Linked DNA regions of Homo sapiens: all the other regions are linked to region 2. The links come from fine-mapping of genetic effects on gene expression. A gene starts in region 2. Each other region holds a variant in brackets. All regions are shown on one strand. Distances are between the middles of the regions. Region 1 overlaps NIBAN1 (niban apoptosis regulator 1). Region 2 holds the start of NIBAN1 (niban apoptosis regulator 1). Region 3 overlaps NIBAN1 (niban apoptosis regulator 1).

Region 1 (8,184 bases), 110 kb after region 2:
TACGGAGTTTAAATTTTAATTTTTTTATTTTTCATTTCTATTAATTATTTTCGTTCTTTTTCTAATCTGGTCATTTAAAATAATCTCTTTTTACTTATATTTCCAATTTTTAAAAATATTTTTAAACATGTCAAACAATATATTTTATATTCCGTGTTTGCTAATTTTAATATCCAAGATCCCTGTGGGTTGTATTCTGCTGTTATTTGTGCTGGCTCTTACTCATGGTACCTTATTAACTTGCTTATTTTGTGATTTTTTTGATGATGAGTTCATATTTCACTGAAGCCAGTTGAAGGTGAGTTCCTGAGAGGATTTGTGTTTCCTCTTACTAGATGCTTGAGGACACTACCAGATATTTGGACCATGTAGCTAATGTGCATTTAGGCCATAAAGATTGTGGGGACATCCTTCTGATTATGATTTCTCAAGAGAAATATTTATCTCTTTCACTCAATGCCTAGGTTTGAGACAGACAATTTTCCTTAGAATGGGCTAAGACCGTGTGTATGTGGGTGGTTTCTGCAATTTAATTTGGCACATTATATGCATTGGTTCTTTGATTCTGGTATTCAGCATCCTGGGAGGCTAGAAAAAGGTAGCTTAAGGTCACTAGGTTCTATCAGTGTCTTCAAAGTGAAAACTAGCTTCAAGACTTGCCTTATGTTTTTGGGTTTTGTATTAGTTTGCTAGGGCTGTTGTAACAAAACACCTCAAACTTAGTGACTTAAACACCAGAAGTGTATTGTCTCAAAGTTCAAAATCCAGATGATGGCAGGGTTGGTTCCTTCTGAGGGCAATGAGAAAAGGATCCATTCCAGGCTTCTCTCCTTGGCTTATATAAGCATCACTCTGATCCATGCCTTCATCCTCCCATGACATTTTCCCTATGTATGTGTCTGTGTCCACATTTTCCTCTTTTTTTTTTTTTTTTTTTTTTTTTTGAGATAGAGTTTTGATCTTGTAACCCAGGCTGGAGTGTAATGACATGATCTCAGCTCATTGCACCCTCCACCTCCCAGGTTCAAGTGATTCTCCAGCCTCAGCCTCCCAAGCAGCTGGGATTACAGGCACACACCACCATGCTTGGCTAATTTTTGTATTTTTAGTAGAGACGGGGTTTCACCATGTTGGCCAGGCTAGTCTTGAACTCCTGACCTCAGGTGATTTGCCCACCTTGGCCTCCCAAAATACTGGGATTACAGGCATGAGCCACTGCACCCAGCTAGCACATTTTCCTCTTTTATAAGGACACCAGTCATATTGGATTGGGGGCTTATCCTATTCCAGAATGATCTCATCTAAACTAATTACATATGCAATGACCGTATTTCCAAACAAGGACACTTTCTGAGATTTGGGGGAATCAAGATTTCAACGTATGAATTTGGGGGGTATACAATTCAATCTATAACAGGTCTTACGTTGTTGCCAGTTCATTGAGGTATTCAAAAGAACTTTTGGAAGTGCAATTTATCCACTATGTCTTTTCTTCAGTAAGAGGGTTGGTTACGGTATAGAGTATGCTATGCTGCTGAACACCATAGGTTTTTGCATGGTGTTAACAAAAATTGTATGATGTTGAAAAGTTAACTGTCACTAAGGCAGTTTTACAAAGGCTGCTTCCATCTTTGGAGCAACCATTCATTTTGCAGCTCTGTCGCATTATCCTTGAGGTTCTGAGGCTGCACATTTACCACCTTGACCTTGCGGGAAATGACTCAAAAGCCACCTTCTTGGGCTATATATTTGCCACCTTGACAGCGGGGGAAATGACTCAAAAGCTAAACCTGACGTTCAGAACTTTTTCGAGTTGTAGAGCCATTTTAGGGATCCATGTTTCAGTCAACTCTGTTGAATGCTCCCGGCAACTATAGCACATATCAATCATAACAATAATAAACAAACCTCAGTCATCAAGAGTAAATTATATCCTACGTGTTATGTGTTAGATGATAGAGAAATGTGGAATACATTTTAGGAAGCTTTCTATCAAAGAGAGTTTAAACCTTTCCCATGTATAAAGGATTAGCTCTTAGCTCTGAAGACTTTGCTTAATCAGAAGATATTACTCATTTAAGGTTATTTAAAGATAAAAACTTTTAGCATATTGTAATCTATCAACCACTGCTTCTGAATGACTTGGTGTGGAATCAGAGTTGGGGGGAAGAGACTTTTAAAATTTCAGAGTCCCTGGCATTATTCCAGACCTACGAATTAGAATCTCTGAGGAAAGGAGCCCAGAAACGTACATTTTAAACAGCATCCCTTCAGAGTTAGAGAATCGTTGTTGCCTAGGGTCTTCCTTTTAAACATAAGGTATTTTGCTTCAGCAACTTAATTTTTATTTTTCTCAAATTGTATTACTGGTAAAGATTCATGATTTTTATAATATGAATTTAATGTTTGAAGTGATATTCAACAGCACAATAAAAAAGTGGTGAATGGTGGGCCGAGCGCAGTGGCTCACGCCCGTAATCCTAGCACGTTGGGAGGCCAAGGTGGGTGGGTCATTTGAGGTCAGGAGTTTGAGACTAGCCTGGCCAACATGGTGAAAACCCATCTCTACTAAAAATACAAAAATTAGCCGGGCATGGTGGCGCACAACTGTAATCCCAGCTACTCAGGAGGCTGAGGCAGGAGAATCGCTTGAACATGGGAGGTGGAGTTGCAGTGAGCCGAGATGGAGCCACTGCACTCCGGCTTGGGAAACAGAGTGAAACTCTGTCTCAAAAAAAAAAAAAGTAGTGAATGCAAATAAAAGTAGTGAATGGTCACAATGTGCTTAGCAATTGTAAGATAAAATTAAACTCTTTATAATATTTTAGTGAGAGGACCACAACTAGACTCTTCATGGGATTTCCTTTTTGAAAATAATCCTGAATCTAATAGCAAGCACAACTGAGATACATTTTCTTTACTGAGTTTTGCATTTCCAGTGTGACCCTTTCGCTTTTTATACTGGACGATCTAATTTTACGTAAGAGCTCACTCTGGTAAGCTGTACCGTGTGTAGGTGTACATGGATGATCTCCACTAGTAAGATAAAATACCTCTCTTCTCTTCTACTTTTATCCCCTTCTTCTGTCCGAGTGAGAGGCAATGTACCACCTTTCCCTTAGACATGACCATAAAATCCCAGAGGAAAGCAATATGCCTAAAATTATTTAGTCTGTTTCCCTTGCTTGAATATGCACTGGAATTCCCTGGCCTGGGGTGGGTCCTAAGAATTTGCATTTCTGACATGTTCTCAGGTAATGCTGATGCTGATACTACTGGCCTGGGGACCCTACTTGGAAAGCCACTGTATTAACTCATTTAATCCTCACAGCAGTCCTGTGAGGTAGGCACTATTATTGTCATCATGCCCATTTTATAGACGAGGGTTCTGGGGCAGCTGGTAAGACAGCTGGTGATCAGGACAAGATTTTAAAGCCAAGCAGGCCGACTTCAAGCCCGTGTTCTAAACTACTGTACCATGTGTCTTCTCAGTCAGCAGGTACTTATTAAACGCATACTGTGTGCCCTGTGTTTGACTAGCTGATATTTTTAAAAAAAATCTAATCTCATTCCTTATTCAGGAACAGATGATTTGAGGATACTCACTTCCTACTGAACTTGACATGGATAATTTCTTGATATCTACTTGAGAGGGACATGAGCTGCTACATCAATTGAAACTCAGGTGACAATTGAGATGCAGAAGTTAAGTCTTTTCTCTGCTTTTAAACATGAAGTTGTGCCTTAACCCAAAAGG[GT/T]GTTCCTGTGGTAAACTGTGTACTCTATAAATGTTCTCCAAAGCTAGAATTTTCTTGGTTTATGCAAATGTACAGCTGAGAATAATTTTGTGGGATATGTTGCAGGGGTGGGGTTGAAAAATTCATGGTACTTATCTATTACCAGTTCTTTGTGTTTTAAGTACTTAGCCTTTATTTTTTTTTCCTTTCAGCATTTTCTTTTGTTAACTGGATTCCCATACTGGCTGTTGCTGAGGGGGTTGGGGAAGTCCTGATCTGACCTGAATTTTTTAAAACAATTTTTTAGCATTTTCTTTTGGAGACCACAAATCATATTGCAAGTCAACAACGTCTGGGTGTTAGTGGGACATTTCTATTTTAAGAGGCTTAGAAAAGGAGGTAAAAAAGAAGGAAGTTGGAAGTTAGGAAGGAGCAATGAAAGCAAAGCACCCATTTTCACATCTTACCAGACAAAGCCCCTCCCTGCCAAGTTCCTTTCTGGTGGGAGATCAGGGCATGGCTCATGCAATCACCAGCTAAGAAAGGAACTGAGACTTCTCTTCATTTGTTGTTTTTTCCTTCCCCACCTTTCCCTAGAAACTATTAGACTGCCACACTGTCCCGTTGTGTGACACGGGACACTTTAAGTGACGGGGTAGACAAAAGCTGGAACAAAAGAGCCTCTATTAAGGTAAGGGTCTACTGTGTCCAGAACATTGTCTTAGATGCTGGGGGCAAAACAAACCGAAAACACAGTCATTGCTTATAAACCAAACTCAATTTGTAAGGCTATCCCACTCAGTTAACAGAGGAGAGTTTGAGGATGATTTCCTCCTGACTTTCCAGGATAAGTGGAATAAAAGAAATAGAAAATAGATCAGGAACATCATTTTGCCTCATTCCATCTCACTTTAAGTGAACTCGGGCCCAAGCCCAAGTGGTTCTGTTCCAGGAAACACGGTGGGTCAAGCAGGATGTAACCTTATCACACACCTTAGCCATTGTCCTTTCCTTCTTAAATCCCTAGTGAGGAGGATAATAGTTGAAGATATCCTTCTTTTTTTCTTCTCCAGGCTTTAGGATATCAGATTAGGTATTTTCAAGTTGAGAACAAAAAGCCTTACCACAAAGTTGTATTCTCCTTGTGCCAATAATAATGAGTCATTCTTGCTAAGAACATAGGTGGTTTGTATCTTTCTAGTGCTTCTTGTCAGAAGAAGCTTAACATGCACAGAGGGAGATATTTTTCCTGGCACAATAGACCCTAGTCACAAACCACAAAGTTTTGCAATAAGGCTATTCGTTAAGTGAATGCAATATTATAGCTGAGACACTTTTGGGGTGTGTGTGTGTGTGTGTTTGTGTGTAGGGGTGTGTGTGTGTGAGAGAGAGAGAGAGAGAGACCGAGAGAGAGTGTCTGTGTGTGATGGGGGCTATACCTCAGCTTCCTGTTTGGCCTTGCTGATGTCACCGCATTAGTATCGGTACTGCACTTCAGATTTTTGTACAGATGTAAGTCATCATATTTAGTATTTGACTTTAAAATGAATTGGTTTTTGCACATCTGTGCTCATAAATGAATAACAATAGAAGGGGGAAGAAATTTTGAATTTTGATTAGATGAAAGGGGTGCAAAACTTCCACTCTTTCTTTCATAGATACCTTGCAAGCCAAAAGCTTTCTAGAATTGCTAGGTGAAGTTCTAAATATCACTAATTTTGAGATAGGCTGATTGACATTTATGATTGGGTTTGGTCAGGATGAAGGGTAGTGAAATTACCAGCATAGATGAGTGAGTTGCCATTGGTCTAAATTTTGCCATCTCTGGTTTTCTTCTGATTTCTAGTTCCATATTTGGTGGCTTTAAATGAACACAGTACTGTTCTCTTCATACCATGTATATTTTTTACCAGGTCAGGAATCTAAGAAACTTATGATCTAATTTAGATGTCTCTGGAAATGTGAATTTCATAACTTAAGAGAAGGGAACAGATTTGAAATTGAAATATTATTATAGGGAGCTGACAGTTGGGTTAAGTGGATTGTTACACATTATCATCTTAAAATTACATTTCGTGTCTTCTTAACTTTCCTCCAAAGAACACATCCTAGAATTATAACACTATTTTCAATTCCCTCTGCATCTTTCAGCCCTTAGAACTAAATCCTAAGCCAATAGCTCACTTTTGGACTCCTAAATTTGATTTTCTGAAGGCCTTAGGTTAAATGTCATTTCCACCAGAACACCTTTCTTAATCTTTCAGGTAGGTGAAAGCCCCACAATTTTCTTCTATCTGTCCATTCATCTGTCCTTCCTTCTCTCGTACCTGTCCTTACTTCCATCACAGTTCTAATCACATCATGTCATCATTGACTATTTATTTATCTGACTCCTAAAACTAGGAGTTCCTAGAAGCCAAGTCTATGCCCATCTACTATTACATCTCAGCCATTAGTACTGAGTGTAGGGGTGTAGTAAGCACATACTCATTTTTTTTTAACTGAATAAAGGAGCATGGGAAGTAGGTCATCATTTGAAAAAGCATCTGGAAATGATAAGAATAGTTAATAAAGCATTCCGGATTGTTTAGGAGAAAGGTCTATTTTACTTGTTAACAGCAAAGGCAATTTCTTTGGAAGATTTTGCTTTCTTTTTTGACTATCTGTGCAGTTACTTGTTTATTTTTCATTTTCCATCAGCTTTACAACTTTTTTTCTCATGCTCCTCATCGCCTACTATCATTTGTGTTTAAGCCTTCCTTTACATAAAACAGTATTTTTGGCTTATTATTTGGATGATTAATGAAAATCAATCTTAGCAGTTAGATTTCTGACTGAGACTGACCAGACAAAGTGAAATGTGTTGCATGATGCCATTATTTAAGTCACTGTTTTGTTGGCTGTGACCCATTAAGCATCCTTTCTTTTTGTTTAAAAATTATTTTTTTTCAGCTTGTTTTAGATTTGGGGGTACGTGTGCAGATTTGTTACATTGGTATACTGTGTGATGCTGAGGTTTGGGGTATGAATGGTCTCGTTACCCAAGTACTGAGCATAGTATACAATAGTTAGGTTTTTCAACTCTGTACCCTTCCCCCACCTCTATAGTCCCGTGTATTGTTGCCATCTATATGTCCATTGGTACTCAATGTGTGGCTCCCACTTATAAGTGAGAACATGAGGTATTTGGTTTTCTGCTCCTGTGTTAATTTGCTTATAATGGCCTTCAGCTTCCTCCATGTTGCTACAAAGGACATGATTTTGTTCTTTTTTTAATAGCTGTGTAGTATCCCATTGTGTATATATACCACATTTTCTTTGCCCAGCCCACTGTTGATGGGCACCAAGGCTGATTCCAGACTGCTTTCCACAGTGGCTGAACTAACTTACATTCCTATCTACCATGTATAAGCATTCCCTTTTCTCTGCACCTCACCAGCATCTGTTATTTTTTGACTTTTTAGTAATAGCCATTCTGACTGGTGTGAGATGGTATCACATTGTGATTTTGATTTGCATTTCTCTGATGATTAGTGATACTGAGCATTCTTTTTTTTTTTTTTTTTGACCTCTTTAGTTTTATATTGTTTCAGCTAAAACCTGTGATGAGGTCATTCTTAGTGAACTACTTATAACTAGTTAGTTCTTATAAATGCTGCCAATGTTTTTTTTTTCTTTTATTATTATTATACTTTAAGTTTTAGGGTACATATGCATTCTTAAAATATGTTTGTTGGCCGTTTGTATGTCTTCTTCTGAGAATTGTCTATTCATGTCTTTTGCCCATTTTTAATGCGATTATTTGTTTTTTGCTTGTTCAATTAAGTTCCTTAAAGGTTCTGAATATTAGACCTTTGTTAGATGTCTAGTTTGTGAATAAAATATTATTTTTTAATGCATCTATTTTCATTTTACGTATTTTTTTTTACAGTCACCTTGGTGACTGTAACACTTACCATCACTTTTGAAGAAGTGACTTAACAAAAGAACCCAAACAACATTTCTTCACCTCTGCAGACTCTTCCTCTCACAATGAAGTGGCTTCCGTTACTGGAATAATGTCAGGGAAGATAACAGCTTCCTCTAAATTCACCCTATTCAAATGTGTAATTCACACTTGTTCACAGACTAGAATAATGTACCTATAAAGTGTTTATTGGCTGTTATATAGCTCCTAGAGGAAGAAAATAAAAATGAAATGGTTTGTACGTTATAGTTTGTCAGAAGTATGATTGCCAATTATAATGATAAAATACTAATGATAGCTCACATTGCTAATATTTATTGAGCACTTACCGTGTGCCAAGCACTGTGTGAAGGCTGACAACAATCCTTTTAGTTAAACAGCATTATTGTCCGTAGGAAACCAAGATTTAGATAGCTAAAGGAGATTGCCTAGAGGTAGGCAGTTATCAAGTGGTGGACTCAGAATTCAATCCTGAATGTT
Region 2 (8,184 bases):
TTTCTCTAATGATTAGTGATGTTGAGCATTTTTTCATATGCTTGTTGGCTGTGTATATGTCTTCTTTGGAAAAGTGTCTGCTTATGTCCTTTGCCCACTTTTTAATGGAGTTGTTTGTTTATTACTTGCTACTTTAAATTTCTTACAGATTCTGGATATTAGATCTCTGTTAGATGCATAGTTCACAAATATATTCTCCCATTCTCTGAGTTGTCTATTTACTCTGTTGATAGTTTCTTTTGCTGTGCAGAAGCTCTTTAGTCAAATCAGGTCCCATTTGTCAATTTTTGTTCTTGTTGCAACTGCTTTTCATGTCTTCATCATGAAATCTTTGCCAGTGCCTATGTCTAGAATGGTATTCCTAGATTTCTTCAAGAGTTTTTGTAGTTTTGGGTTTTACACTTAAGTCTTTAATCCATCTTGAGTTGATTTTTGTGTATGGTATAATATAAAGAATGGGTCCAGCCGGGCATGGTGGCTCACGCCTGTAATCCCAGCACTTTGAGAGGCCGAGGCGGGCGAATCATGAGGTCAAGAGATCGAGACCATCCTGGCCAAAATGGTGAAACCCCATCTCTATTAAAAATACAAAATTAGCTGGGTGTGGTGGCACACGCCTGTAGTCCCATCTACTCAGGAGGCTGAGGCAGGAGAATCCCTTGAACTCAAGAGGCAGAGGTTGCAGTGAGCCGAGGTAGCGGCACTGCACTCCAGCCTGGTGACAGAGCAAGACTCCGTCTAAAAAAAAAGAAAAAAGAAGGGGTCGAGTTTCAATCACCTGCATATGGCTAGCCAGTTATTCCAGCACCATTTATTGAATAGGGAGAGTCCTTTCCCCATTGCTTTTGTCAGCTTTGTTGAAGATCAGATGGTTGTAGGTGTGCACCTTTATTTCTGGTTTATTTCTCTATTCTGTTCCATTGGTCTATGTATCTGTTTTTGTCCAATATTTTTGGTATACTGTTTTTGTACCAGCATTATGCTGTTTTGGTGACTGTACCCTTCTAGTATAGTTTGAAGTCAGATCATGCCATGCCAACAGCTTTGTTCTTTTTGCTTAGGATTGCACTAGCTATTCAGGCTCTTTTTTAGTTTCATCTGAATTTTAGAATAGTTTTTTTCTAATTCTGTGAGGCATGTCTTTGGTAGTTTGATAGGAAGAGCTTTGAATCTGTACATTGCTCTGGGCAGTATGACCATTTTAACAATATTGATTCTTCTTATCTATGAGCATTGAATGTTTTTCCATTTGTTTGTGTGAATCCATCTTTGTACTCTGTTTCATCCGTGAATATTTACAAATGAGTGGATAAGGGTAGATGAGGATAATCAGTCCTTTCTCAGAGTATTCCTGAAGTAGAGGTGACAAGCTAAAACTACACTTCTGGCAGGAGATCCAAGCTAGTTTTCTTCAATAACAATAACAGTATTCTGAGGCACAGTTATAGCAATTTATATAGTCAAAGAAATTACTTCTCCAAGAAGATACACTTAATTCTAGGAGCCAACTAGAGTATTGAGAGAAGAGTTCAACACTAAATATTTTAAATCATTGAGTTGTTATCTGGAAATGCTTGAGATCACAGTTTTTGTTGAGTACAGATTTTTACATTTTATTTTTCATTCATTCACTTATTCAGTGGTTATCTACTGGACACCTACTACATGCTAGGTGCTCTTCTAGGCATTTGAAATACAGCAGAGGACAGAATAGACAAAAAAATCCCTGCCATAAGAGGAAAAATAATAATAAAAAAGGAAACAGAAATTTTGAGGGAAAAAGCCCCAAGAAACAACAATAACAACAAAGAAAATCCCTGATCTTATAGAGTTTACATCGCAGTGGGGGAAGATAGACAAAGAAATATGTGTTAGATGATACTAAGTGATATGAAACAGAAATAATGAAGAGCAAGTGGCAGAGAGAGGTGATGGCTGGTGTTCCTGGGTCAAGGAGAACCTCTCTGAATTACTAGCATTAAAGTGGAGGCTTGAATGAAATGACTGAGAGAGTAACCTATGTGAATATCTGAAGGAAGAGCATCCTACAGAAATGAAAAACAAGTGCAAAGGCCCTGAGCTTGATGTGTCTCAGAAAGAGTAAAAAAAAAGGCTAGTAGGGCTGGAACAGAGAGAACAAGGAGTGGTGGTAGAGAAGATCACAGAGGAAACTCCACCTAGGCCCTGATAGACGTCGTGGCTTTTCTCTGAAGAAGGTAGATCAGTTAGGCAGCTAGTGTAATGAATAAGGTGAGGAATGATATGGGATGTCAGTAGAGGGGATGAGAATTGGTTGGCTATTGGACATATTTAAAAGCTGAATTGACAGGATTTACTGACAGATTGGAATGTAGAGTGTGAGAGATTGGGTGTGAGTGTGATGAAATAATTGTGTTAAAGTGCAAGTTAGCTAATAGGGAAGGCGGGGGTGTGTGGGAAAGCCTTCAAAGTCCTCCTCAGGCCTGGTTCTAGTGTATACAGACCATTTGACCTTGAGGTTAAGTCAATAGGAGTCGCAAAATAACTGACTACTAAGAATAGGATGAAATCAGCGGTGACCCCTCTGCCCAAGTGGGTCTTGTTCCGAGAGGCTGCCAAGCTAAATAGTGGTTGTGGGAAAAGAACAAATATCTTTTCTAATGATTGATTTCCAGTTAAGGAGAGGAATGGAAAGTAAAGGGGTAAGGACAGACGTTCATCAAGTCTTAGGAAGTTTCAGGGCTGGGAGTATATTGCAGGACCAAGCCTTAGTTTTTCCCTGTCTTTCCATTTTTTTTTCTCTTTCCTTTTTTCCTCATTTCCCCACTCCCTCCTTGGTCCAGGTTCTCGCCTGCAGAAAGGTATAGTTTACCTCTAGTTCTCAAACTTCAGCGGGCATCAGAATTCCCTGGAGGGTTTGTGCAAACACAGATTGCTGGGCTCCACTCCCACAGATTCTAAGTGTGTGTGTGTCTGTGTGTGTGTAGAGGGGTGGTGGACGAAAGCGCTGAGATTTTGTATTTCTAACAGGCTCCCAGGTAATGCTTGGGAAGAACTGTTGCTTCTTGGACAGCAACACTTACAAGGCAACGTGATCTTGAGCTCCACCTCGAAGGATGTGAGCTGGGAAAGTTCCAGCTCACAGAGATTTAGTCACTTGAGAAATGGTCCACTTCCTCCAAGGTGTTTCTTGGATGCCCCAAAGGGATGAAAACAAGAAGTGACCGTGGGCGAGGAGGAGGAGCTGGCCGACCTCCTCGGTTGCCAGCCCGTCGGAGCTCACCAGCTAGGCGAGGGCGGGAAGACAGCCCCCGGGCCGGCCCACGGATCATCAGAAGGCGCGGACCTGGAGGAGGCGCCCCAGAAGGCGACGCCTCTTGCCTCCTGTCTCTCGCCTCTCGAAGGAAGTTTGCTCTTAATTTCAGAGCCGGGTTCGCCGTCGGATCAACCTCCAGGAGCTAGCAGCGGGCGCGGACCGGGCAGTTTCCGCGCTCAGCACAGGCAGCTCGCGGTCATGGGCGGCTCAGCCTCCAGCCAGCTGGACGAGGGCAAGTGCGCTTACATCCGAGGTACGCCCGCCCGCCCGGGGGCCTGGGGAGCACCCTGACCCGTGCACCAGGCTGGCTGCCGCGGTCGGGGCCCCAAGGGGCGCGCCCCGGGCCCTCTCCCTGTAGCGCGCGGGGATCCCCGACCGCAGCCCGCCCGCGCGAGTCGGGTTTCCTGCCCCAGCCGGCGCGCTCCGGCGCGGGTGTGGACCGGGGACCGGGAGGGCTTGGGAGCGAGGCAGGTGCAGGATGCGGGTGGGGACGCCGGCGCCTTCGCCGCTCCCGCCGCCTCGGGGTCAGTGCCGCCCCCGCCCGGCGCACTTCGCCCTCCAGTACCTGCCCTGGACTGAGTTCTGAGCGGTTTCTGAACTGGCCGCCAAGAGAGCAGCGGGGATATCCCGCGTTTCTAGAGATACCCCTGGGGATTCCCGGCAGCTAAAGCAGAATTTCCCTCTTAGTAATGTTGGCCTGGCTTTGGAAAGCGCGGCGTTGGCCGCAGCTTCGCTCGCACTTCATCCTAGCACTTGCAGGATGATTTCATCAGCGGCAAAAAGGACAATGTCATGCCGTTCCCTTCCCGCCCCGGAGAGGGGCGAAGCAAAAGAGGAACACTGGCGTGCTTTGTAACTGCCCGAAAGTTACAGATGGGGAGAAACTCATTTAGGGAGACCCTCAGAGATGTGGGGACTCAGTAGAGAGCGTGAGGCTGCAAAACAAACAAAACAAAACCCAAACCGAACTGAAACTGCAGGAAGTCCTGACTCGTTATCTCCTTTATTTCCTGGGCGTATTTGGCCTCCCCTCTTCTCACCCCCCACCCCAAACTTGCCTTCAACCGCTACCTAACATTTGGTTATCTTACCAATTTACTGTCTTTCCCCCGCCCCGCCGCCAGATCCCCCACCCTCGGCTTCAGAAATATCTTCCAGACTATGTATTAAACTCTAGGTTTATTTGGCCCTTGAATCCTTTCCTAAGAGGAAATCATTTATTTGGTGTTCTTATTCCACATTTGTTTTCAGTCACCACAACATTTAAGACCGTTTTAAAAAGATATCAAATCAGGGTACGTGAAGAGCAACGGAGCTGATTTTACAGATTCCTGCTCTGGTGCTTTTGGAGGTAAAAGATCCTCAACAACCTGTACTGTCAGGGGATAACACTTGGTCAAGTATCTCTTTGCTTTTGTTTGTTAAAGGGGAAAAGACGGATGATTTATTTATATTAGTAAAAGAGCTGAACTAAGCTTAAAAGAAATAAATGAAGCCTGCCTTAGTCTTAAAAATGTGGCTACATGCTTGTGTTACCAGTGTATAGGGACTGAAAGGGCAATCAACAGAACGTAGTGAGAAAGGGCTTGCATTTGAATGTTAGCAAAGTTGTGTTTAAGGCATTTATATAAGACTTTATTTCACTGGAAAGCTTAGGAGCACCTAATGTGGACGCATGGCCAAGTACACTAATCATTTGAAGTTAAGCAATGTGAAGGATTAACATGCTTAAAGAAGACTTCCTGGCCGTGCCATTTGTTGCTATTGATGCAAACATTGTACTCAGATAATAAGAAAATGCTATTAATTTCTTTATTCTGAAAGCTATTAAATTATTACATATACAAAAGTACGAGGGAGTTAGGGCAGATGAAGAACTTGTAATGCAAGTGTTTGAATGAGTAAACCTATAGCATATGGTGTGACAGTCATTACATTTCCCAGTCTTGTTCAGCTTTCTCTCTTCATTCTATATTCAGGAGGGCACTTGCAAGGTATGTGTAGTGGGAGAGGGAAGAGAAGAGTTAAAGTTAGAATACCTCCAGGGAAAAAGACTCATCACTTCATGTGAGAATGCTAGTCTTGCCAAAAGAGAAAAGAACCTTGGAAAAATGCATGGTGTTGTACATTGTTAGTGCATGAGCAAATGAGGGTCACAGGGCTGTGATTTCCTGATGGTTTTGAAGCCCAGGTTCCTGAGTAAAATCATAGCCCTATCTTTACCTCTTTGCCCATTTTTTAGCCTATAAATATTCTCAAGCTTTGATTCAATTGTAAGCAAAACGATTGGAAGTATGACAGTAAAGTTTAAATATACTTTTATGACCTGTTTCTCATAAAGTAGCCATCAGTGAAATATAGATTTGAAAGCTCCTGAAGCTGAGACAATAACTTTCTTTTAAGCTTGATAAACTTTGCTAACAAGGAGAGTAGCTAGTCAATATATTTTGAGTGACTTTTGTTAACTTTATTTTGTATGCATCATAAACCGCTGTATGCTACTGACGCTGAATCAGCCTTTACTTTAAGACAAATCATTTAACAGCTGCCATTCCTTGTGTGCCTCAAAACATCTGTGTCATATGGATGTTTTGAAAATACATTGTTTCTTAGGATTTAGTTAATCTTCAGGTAAAGATATATCATCTACGTTAAGGAGTTACTTCATTTCTAAAGATGTTAGTTTGGGAAATTACGGCAATGCTCATGTTTCTTACAACAGAATAAATTTTTAGGATTGTTTCTAGAAGCCTTTCAGTAGTGTCCCTTGATAAGATGTTTCTATTAATAAATAATACTGAGACCAACTTGTGATCACATGAGCTGTGTCATATGTTAGTCTTAAGTGATGCTTTTAGCACTGACCTAAAATGATCCTTTTTTTTTGAGACAGAGTCTCACTCTGTCACCAAGCTGGAGTGTAGTGGCACGATCTCGGATCACTGCAACCTCTGACTCCCTGGTCCAAGTGATTCTCCTGCCTCAGCCTCCCGAATAGCTAGGATTACAGCCACGCACCACCATGCCCAGCTAATTTTTGTATTTTTAGTAGAGACGGGGTTTCACCATGTGGGCCAGGATGGCTTCGATCTCCTGACCTTGTGATCTGCCTGCCTCGGCCTCCCAAAGTGCTGGGATTATAGGCATGAGATACCGTGCCCAGCCAATCTTTTTTTTAATGAGGAAGAAAGCTCATAGATTCCAGGCATCAGTGATCAGTTTGGGTGCTCTTCTCTCTTTATGCCATGTTTTCTTTTCTTTTCTTTTTTTAGTTTTCTGAGATAGGGTCTCACTCTGTTACGCAGGCTGAGTGCAGTGGTACAATCACTGTGAGCCTTGACCTCCCCTGGCTCAGGTGATCCTCCCACCTCAGCCTCCTGAGTAGCTGAAACTGCAGGTGTGTGCCACCACGCCCAGCTAATTGTATTTTTTGTAGAGATGGGATTTTGCCATGTTGCCCAGGCAGGTCTCAAACTTCTGGGCTCAAGCAGTCTTCCCGCCTTGGCCTCCCAAAGTGCTGGGATTACAGGCATGAGTCACCATGCCCGGCCTCTTTTTCTGTAAAGCTTTTGGTATGCATGAAATTAAACTATAGCTTAAAAAAAAACCCCAAAACAAAACCAAAAAACCCCCCACACTGTGTTTTCCTGTTTATGCAATAATTTTATTTCCTTCTAAAAATTACCCTTGAATTTTTAACGAATCAAAAAGAAAGCAAACCTGAAAGATCTCCCACATAAGAAGTCCTGTGGAGGGTCAGAAAAGTACTGGACAGTCAGTGCCGCAGCTGAAAACCATGGGATAAACAGATCCTAGTGGGCACTTGCAGGCCTGCCAGCAGCAAATACCAGTTAGGAAAACTGTTTTCCCCCACTGGATTTATTATTGCATAGTCAGTTACATAATATATAAAGGGCCCAGTGGCTTCCTCCAAAAGCTTCTCAATGATCTGATGCTTATAAAATAAGAAATGAGTTTCAGCTTTAAAATAGCACATATTTTTCTCAGGGAAGTTCCCTCTTATTTATACAAGGGTTAACTTAGGTGGCTAGATACAAAGTTTAAAGTGATGTGTCTAGAATGAAGTCTCCATGGGCAAGGTGGAGGATGGGGAGAGCTGTACACATCTGTAGTCTACTTAGTGTGGATGTGTCGTACTAGTCCACACATTTGCTTCTTCGGTCATAATTTGTTGGTGGGAGATGGGCATAAGAACTGGTCTGACTTAACCTGAATATTTTTGGTAGTGTGATCTTAGAGTCCAAGTTGGCTAGTAATGGCAATATACTATGATGAGAAAGTTAGGAAATGCATTATGGTAGACACCGTGGTATGTCAACCCAACATCTTTTTCCCACTCCTCCATTTTTTTTTTTTTTTTTTTTGAGACAGGGTCTCACTCTGTCACCCAGACTAGAGTGCAGTGGGACAGTCATGGCTCACTGCAGCCTCGACCTCCCTGGGCTCAAGCGATCCTCCCACCTCACCCTCCTTAGTAGCTGGGGGTACAGGCATGTGCCACCATGCCCAGGTAGTTTTTTTGTATTTTTTTGTAGAGACGGGGTTTCGCCATGTTTCCCAGGCTAATCTCAAACTCCTGAGCTCAAGTGAGCCACCTGCCTTGGCCTCCTAAAGTTCTGGGATTACAGGCATGAGCCTCTGTGCCCAGCCCCCATTCCTTTTTCTAACAGAACTCCAGTTTTGTTCAGGCATTAAAACTCCTGGCCAGGTTTGGTGGCTCACACCTGTAATCCCGGCACTTTGGGAGGCTGAAGCAGTAGGATTGCCTGAGCCCAGAAGTTTGAGACCAGCCTGGGCAACATGACAAGACCTTGTCTCTCTCTTTAAAAAAAAAAAAAAAAGAAAGAAACTCCTGATATTGCCCTCTG
Region 3 (8,184 bases), 86 kb after region 2:
GTGACTTAATTTGGTAATAACCAAGTGTTTTTTGAAACTTGGAATTCTTTTAAAGTCCACGCAGTTTGTCATAATTTCTTGAAGTTTTAATAATATCTTCTTTTTTTAATTTATGGAAGTATCTTATAAAATTATATCTAAGAATTATGCATTAAGTACCTGTAAGTCATCTATTATTTTATTTAGAGTCCAATTCTGGCTGGCAATTAAACAGGAAAAGTAAAACATTCTCACTTGATAATCAGTTTCTATTTTGTGTGCACTGGGGCTGGACAGGCATGAATATAAATCCTGGATGTGTCACCTACTCACTGCTGGGCCATGGGCAAGTTATTCAGTCTCTTTGAGCTTCATGTTTCCCATTTGAAAAATGGAGATAACATGTAATGCATAGTACTGTTTTGAGGATTAAGTGGTATAATGCTTATAAAAGCCAATATTGGGGCCTGTTATAACTAGTAATACAATTCACTTTTGAGTCCAGTCTAAATCAAATTGCTTGTAAATCTTCTTAATATCATACAAGTTTAGATTCTTCTCTCAACATTATTGTTTCACTATAATGTAGCTCTGTGGGAGTTCTTAGAGCTGTAAGGTATTATTTCATGGGGAGCCCTCAATTATGTATAGATCCTCCTTCCTGGGTTAATCATTTATTCAGAAGAGTCCTCCAATCGTCTTTCTTAGGATGAATAGGTCAGGCTGCCAGAATTCTGTGTTAGTGGGTATATTCTGGTTCCCTCACATGCTTAAGCAGTTGATTAGTCGTTGTTACAAGTAATTTAGATATCTGAGAGTTTGTTTCATTTGGATCTCTTCACTATCTTATTGCTGCAGAACGTGTTATCGTTACTCTGATTATGTTGGTCAGATCAACATTATTTAGTCATTTCCAAGAGTAAATTCTAGATTTTGGGTCTCAAACTTTCTTAGTTTCAATTCTCAACTTGCCTTTAGATTACTAGTTTCAGAATTTTGCCTTGACTTAAGCCCTCCCGTCAGATGCACATACTTAAATGTTATCTTATCTGCATGTCCTTGTGGGCATAGGTGCTTACCAAACTGCTTTGGCAATGCCCTGTGCCTCTTTTCTGTGTCTCAAATAGCAGAGCTTCTTGTCTGCTGGCCAGCATTTGTTCTGATGTCACAGTGCTGTACTTCCATCTCAACCATTTTGCTGCAAAACAGTTTCACATCTGAGGGCAAAATAGTGGCATATTTTATGCCAACATTTTCATGTTTTGATGAAAATCCATGGTAACTATCATTGCAGCTACGTGTTCCACAGTCTCATTAGTCATCCTATGTGGCCCACATCAGTCACCAAGCATTCTGTGCAGTATTTGTGTGATCGTCACCTTTGTGGTTATTATCAGAATGATTTAGTTGTTAGCATCTGAAATGGCAAATGTGGTGCAGACTTTCAGGGTTACTGAGATTATGTTTTCCACATTCGAGAACATACCTAGGGTAAATCTCCCTGAGATTAGGGACTCTGATTTACCATGTTGTGACTGTCACATGAAAGTATTAAAATATTACCTTGCCATTAGCAGGTATTCAAAACATATTTTTTGAGTAAATGACTATAACTCAATAACATAGTATGGGGATTGCTATCTCTGAATGTCTGAATCTGTCTATTTGTTATATCCCTGATATTTTCCAAAAATCAAATGGGGAAAAAGATATCATTCCTGTGTGCCTTTCCCTCCCCAGGCCTATCAGAGAGGAGCTGCTCCTAAATGTCGAATTCTTCCAGCCGGTGGCAAGGTGTTAACCTCAGAAGATGAATATAATCTGTTGTCTGACAGGCATTTCCCAGACCCTCTTGGTGAGTTGCTGATCATTCTTTTCCAAGGCAAAATGACTAAGCTTCTTTGTTTAGCTGGAGCAGTGTTTCTCTGTGAAGGAGAGGGATTTCCCTCCAGGGACATTTGGCAGCATCTGGAGACATTTTTGTTTGTCACAATTGGAATCGGGGTGCTATGGCATTTAGTGAATAGAGGCCAGGGATGCTACAAAACATCCTACCATGCACAGGACAGACCCTAACAAGGAAGAGTTATCTGGTACAAAGTATCAGTAGTGCCAAGGTTGAGAAACCCTGGGCTAGTCACTCATGTCCCATAGACAAGTGGAAGATGTGATTTCTCTAGTTGAGGAAAACATTTTACCACTTCCATTATTTCTAATCCCATTCAATAATACACAGTCAGTCTCTGTGTTTCTAGCACATGGAAAATGTGCTGTCAGCCAGGTATCTTGAAGCTTTTGGAATATATTGCAGGCTTTGATAGCACTCCACAAGGCAGCAGAAATAAACAGGTAGGGCCCAGTCCATGAAATATACAATCCCATCTTCTAGTAAGCAAGCCTGGACCTGTCAGGGAATACTATTTTTCTAATTTTAGGATGATATGCAACTAAATACCCTAAATAGACAAAAAACCTTTTAATAAGTGTTACAGTAACTCATAGCTACTGTGAAAAAAAAAAGCATTGCATTAATTTGCATATCTATAAATAAAGCTGGGATGCTGCCATGGAAAGATAATTGGGAGATTGGATTTTTATCTAGTTCTGGCTGTGCCACTTACCAAATGCTTTAGCTTAGCCGGCTGCTGAACAGCTCTGGTTTCTGTTTCTCCAACTCAAAAACAGGGCTTTGAACTTAAAAACCTAGAAGGGTCTTTCTAGGTCTAACCTTCTTTGATTCTCATTCATTCCACTTTTTACATGTGGAGAAATGATGGATAATATATAGACTAAATAAGGCAATTCATAGAGATTCATGAAGTGTGGATAATGTAATAACTCCATTTGGCTTTGCATAAATCATACTACATAGTAATTACTTGGTTCTTGAAGAGAGCCCTGGTTCTTATTAACGGACATAATAATTTCATTAGAATTTATGGAGAAAAACATAATCATTTTATCAATTGTTATTTCGGTGCTGAGTGCTTAACATAGTGTTTTTAATAACACAATTACAGGATTGGTACATGGACCATAAACTAAGATTAACAAATTATTACTAAGTAATTCATGCTAAAACAACACTTTATGTGCACTATGCATATTATTATATTTTCTTTTACATCTACTTATATGCCCTTGGCAGTGGAGCTGCAGCTAGAAATGGGAATACCAACATGTTGACTCATCCAAATCTCTCTAAAACTTTCCAATGAAATCAGCCAGAAGAGACAATATGTTTATTGATTTATTGCTGTAATCATATTGGAGGGAATGAAAAGGACTAAAAAACACAAGTCCTGTGTGATTAATCCCAGTTGGCCCAAGGCTTCAGATTGGGGCATTTTAATGACTTTTTAAAATTGTGTGTTGTGACCTTCTGACTTTTAAAATAGAATATTCTACAGTAGATCAGTTGTGATATTCTTGTAACTCAGAAAAAATTCACTGATGGCATCTGGAAAATTGTTGTAAAAGGTTGAGAGATAACTAGAGGCTAAAAGGAATGAATTTTATGGGTTTGTTGAGGCTTTTTAAATGCAAAGGATCAATGTTGCTTTTGGTTGCTTGTACAAAATTATGACATTCTTGGAGAGGGCAAGGAGGATTGTTTGATAGAACCATGTCAGTCAAGAAGACTGACTCTGTGATATTATTTCTACCAGAAAGAATAAAGGCATAATAAAGATGGGATGCTTATGAATAAGTGCATTTCTTGGAAAAAGCACTAGAGGCTTATGAATAAGTGCATTTCTTTTTCTTTTTTCTTTTGAGACAGAGTCTCACTCTGTTGCCCAGGCTGGAATGCAGTGATGTGATCATGGCTCACTGTAGCCTCGACCTCCTGGGCTCAAGTAATCCTCCCACCTCAGACTCTCGAGTTGCTGGGACCACAGCTACATGCCACTATGCCCAGAAAAACAAAACAAGCAAAAAAACAAACAAAGAACTGC[A/G]GAGACAATGGTCTCACTCTGTTACCCAAGTTGGTCTTCAACTCCTGAGCTCAAGTGACCCTCCTGCCTTGGCCTCCCAAAGTGCTGGGATTATAGGCATAAGCCACCATGCCTGGCCAATAAGTGTATTCTTTACAGAGTGTTCAGCTAAGTTGATACAGAAAAAAATGCCCCCGTGTTTTGTTAAAGTAATTCACTTGTTTGGCATTTTACTGGTTAGAATCTCATTTACTGCATACAATAAAAAACTCAAAGTTTTATTATCTCACTAAAGATATTTCGATATTAGTTCAGGGCTGGTGTGGACTAAATTTGTCTGAAGCTCAGGCTCTTTCTTGCTTTCTCCCCCTTTATTTCTAGGTTGTGGCCCCTTTTGGCAGGGTCCAGGGTGGCTGCTGAGCTCCTACCATAGCATTCTCATTCCAGATAATAGGGAGGAGAAAAGGAAAGGAGGAGGGTACATTCACTTTCTTTAGAGATACCTCCAGGAAGTTTCATATGCCACTTCAGCTTATATCTTACTGGACAGATCTTAGTAGCTGTGGGCTCACCAAGCTGCAAAGGAGGCTGGAAATGTAGTCTTATTTTATGTAGTCACTTGCCCAACTAAAAATCAGGGGCCTTATTCTCCCCAGAAAGGGAAATAGATACTGTGTTACAACTACAGGTGTCTCTATAGCATTCAATCATTCATTCATTTGCTCGTTTTCATGTTGATTCATTCCCAGCATTGTGCTAGGTCCTGGTGGGCCATGGCTTGTGCTGGTGGTGCATTCTCCTCTGTTACCTTCAGATTCCAGGACACTGGAACAGGGCTCCCATATATCCCCAGAAATTTATTCTTTATTTAAACCAATACGGATTGATTGATTGACTGATTGATTTTGAGATGGAGTTTCGCTCTGTCACCCAGGCTGGAGTGCAGTGGCATGATCTCGGCTCACTGCAACCTCTGCCTCCCGGGTTCAAGTGATTCTCCTGCCTCAGCCTCCTGAATAGCTGGGATTACAGGTGCATGCCACCACTCCCGGCTAATTTTTGTATTTTTAGTAGAGATGGGTTTTCACTATGTTGGTCAGGCTGGTCTTGAACTCCTGACCTCATGATCTACCCTCCTTGGCCTCCCAAAGTGCTGGGATTACAGGCATGAGCAATCCTGATTTATTAATTTGCCAGAACTGATGCGGTTCTGTAGACTCCCATGTGGTCATGATTCATTTCCTTGTATTCCCAGTGCTTTCAATGGCCTCTTAGAGAGACCTTCTTCCTTACCTTTCCCTGAGATTGGTGCTTAATACATATGCAGGAAGCACAGAACTAACATTTTCTTCTGCTTATTTTCTGTGACTCTGGAAAAAGTTGGAACTCATTTAACCAAGTGCAATATCATGTAATAGGAATGCATGGAAAGGAGTAAAGTTTAGGTAGGGGTTCTGAATAGTAGTCGGTTTAAAATGAGTTGCTTGGAATTGATTTTGAGGGAAGAGGTAAAAGTCCCATTGTCTAGGGCTTTAAAAAAATATCCTAGGCCAACAAAGCACATTTTTCACTCAACAAACTGAAGTTGAACATCTGCTATGTTCCATGACTGTGCTGTGGGCTAAGGATACAAAGCTATGGAAGATGCAGTCTGCATCTCTAGACGTTCACAGTGGGTAGCAGTGGTTCTGCTCCTTGCGGAGGGGAACAGCACGGGAATCCATCTCATTCCCCTCCCCCGCCTCCCTACCCTGAGTGTGGGCGCTGGGCATGAAAACAGGTCATTGCAGTATTTGGGGAGAACAGGGTAGGAAGCACCTAACTCTGTCTCTGGTGGCAGTGGGATGTGCCAGCAAAGGCATCCCAGAGGAGTGGCTTTTGAACTGACTTTTGAAGGATGAATGAGAATTTTTTTATGGGAAAGCATGATGGAAAGGAGGGAAGAGAGGGTTCTATGGACTGTAGGAACAATATAAAAAGTCACGGAATGGGTGAACACACCCTGGGAGGGTACAGACTGAGAGTGGAGGGGAAGCCAGCACAGAACAGGGCAGGCACCGATGCTTAGCGAGGAGATGGAGAGAGTCAGCAGAGGAACCAATAAAGGTGATAAAGAAGAAACAAAATTCTACAAAGCATGAAGGAAACCAGGAGAGAGGCACTCCTGGAAGTCATGGGGAGATAATGTTTTCAAAAGAAGGGGTTGTTAGCAGCAGCAAATATTCCAGGTCAGATGAAAAGAAGCAGCCATAGGCTGGCAGTCAGGATGACATAAATGGCTTCAGCAGTTGGGTTTCAGGAGCTGGTGGGGACAGGAATCAGACTGAGGTGAGAATAAGGTTGATGGCATAAAAACAGCAAGTGGTGTTTGGCAGTGACAGGGAGGAGGGAGAGAGTGCAGGGCAGAGAGCTGCCCTGTTGGAGCTGGAGCCTGCAGGGCCAGTAGAGTGAGGGGGTGCACAGGTTGTCAGTGGCCTGCAGAGGGGCAGGAGGGCAGAGGAAGCTCCGTTTGTGGGTCTTTAGACATAAGGAAGTTGAGAAAGATTGTGCCCAGGCTGGGCGCGGTGGCTCATGCCTGTAATCCCAGCACTTTGGGAGGCAAAGTCAGGTGGCTCGCTTGAGCTCAGGAGTTTGAGATCAGCCTGGGCAACATGGCAAAACCCTGTCTCTACAAATAATACAAAAAAACTAGCCGGGTGCGGTGGCTTATGCCTGTAATCCCAGCTACTCGAGAGGCTGAGGCGGGCAGATCACTTGAGGTCAGGAGCCTGGCCAACAAGGTGAAACCCTGTCTCTACTAAAAAGACAAAAATTAGCTGGAGGTGGTGGTATGCGCCTATAATCCCAGCTACTCAGGAGGCTGAGGCAGGAGAATCATTTGAATCTGGGAGGTGGAGGTTGCAGTGAGCAAAGATTGTGCCACTGTACTCCAGCCTGGGTGACAGAGCGAGACTCTGTCTCAAAAAAGAGAAAAAATTGTGTTCCTGGTATCCTCACTGTCCCTGTGATGTTGGGTAGGAGGCCAGGCAGACCGCAGTGGGACAGGGGAAGCTGGTGGAGGGATGCCAGAGGAGCCAGTGCTCCCAGTTTCCCTATCCTGTGAAAATATCTCACCAACTTTCCATCCCATGGCCTGCCCCAGATAGTCACCCTCACGACCTGAAACACACATTTGAAATAAAAGATACATGTTTTAAAAGGTATTTGTGTTTTCAATATTTCTTTAGCCTCCAGTGAGAAGGAGAACACTCAGCCCTTTGTGGTCCTGCCCAAGGAATTCCCAGTGTACCTGTGGCAGCCCTTCTTCAGACACGGCTACTTCTGCTTCCACGAGGCTGCTGACCAGAAGAGGTTTAGTGCCCTCCTGAGTGACTGCGTCAGGCATCTCAATCATGGTATGGCGCGGCTCCCCTCTCATCCCCGGGGCGGGAAGTGGGGCAGCCCTCGCTGAGTTGTTCTGGTCCATCATCTATTGCAGTGATTCTTAGAAAGAGCCACAGATGAGCCAAGTGCGGTGGCTCATGCCTGTAATCCCAGCACTTTGGGAAGCTGAGGCCAGCAAATCACAAGGTCAGGAGTTCGAGACCAGCCTGACCAATATGGTGAAATCCCATCTCTACTAAAAATACAAAAAAATATAGCTGGACGTGGTGGTGGGCACCTGTAATCCCAGCTACTTGGGAGGCTGAGGCAGGAGAATTACTTGAACCCGGGAGGCAGAGGCTGTGGTGAGCCGAGATCGCGCCACTGCACTCCAGCCCAGATGACAGTGCAAGACTCCATCTCAAAAAAAAAAAAAAAAAAAAAAAAAAGAGCCACAGATGGTGCTGCCCAGGGAAGAAGAGGGAAACAGGTAAAGGGAGAGTTCTGTGCACAAGGAGCCTCACCTGCTTGCTGGTTTTCAGGCAGGCCTGGGAGGCCCCGGTGAAGCAGAACATGGGGCAGTTATCTGGCTGCAAGTTGGGGGGTGTCACATTCTGACTGTCCTGAGTTTATTCATGTAGACCATTTTGCATATACTTCACTCTCCTTCTTCCTGATTTAAAAAAATCTAAATGCCAGCAAGAACATGCCAGTTTTCCCTGGCAAATGCTAGTCTTTTTGACATTTCCTTTTTATTTTCACCTTTATTTCTGAATAACAGTTACTCAGTTAAGATGAGTGGCACGGTCCGTGGTAATCTAGTATTTGTTTCTGGATCAGTGTTTCTTAAAACTTTAGGGCTCATAAGAATCACCAGGAGAACTTAATTAAAACACACATTCTTAGG

What was found. PIP is the estimated chance that this variant, and not a neighbour inherited with it, causes the effect.
Region 1: its variant is fine-mapped to the expression of NIBAN1 in blood mononuclear cells (TOPMed, PIP above 0.99).
Region 3: its variant is fine-mapped to the expression of NIBAN1 in whole blood (INTERVAL, PIP 0.90).

What each region holds. Positions count from the first base shown.
Region 1 is chr1:184,864,108-184,872,291 of GRCh38, reverse strand. All of the region lies in intron 5 of NIBAN1 (niban apoptosis regulator 1), which reads left to right. Among named protein-coding and RNA genes, the nearest start is that of NIBAN1, 110 kb to the left of the region's middle. The variant GT/T (reference allele first, on the strand shown) is at 3,758.
Region 2 is chr1:184,969,666-184,977,849 of GRCh38, reverse strand. It overlaps NIBAN1 (niban apoptosis regulator 1), which reads left to right and starts at 3,342. Exons shown (of 14, transcript NM_052966.4): 1 at 3,342-3,548. The coding sequence starts at 3,494. RefSeq lists a silencer at 3,558-3,877 and an enhancer at 3,988-4,157.
Region 3 is chr1:184,883,758-184,891,941 of GRCh38, reverse strand. It overlaps NIBAN1 (niban apoptosis regulator 1), which reads left to right. Exons shown (of 14, transcript NM_052966.4): 4 at 1,720-1,834; 5 at 7,142-7,309. Among named protein-coding and RNA genes, the nearest start is that of NIBAN1, 87 kb to the left of the region's middle. The variant A/G (reference allele first, on the strand shown) is at 3,936.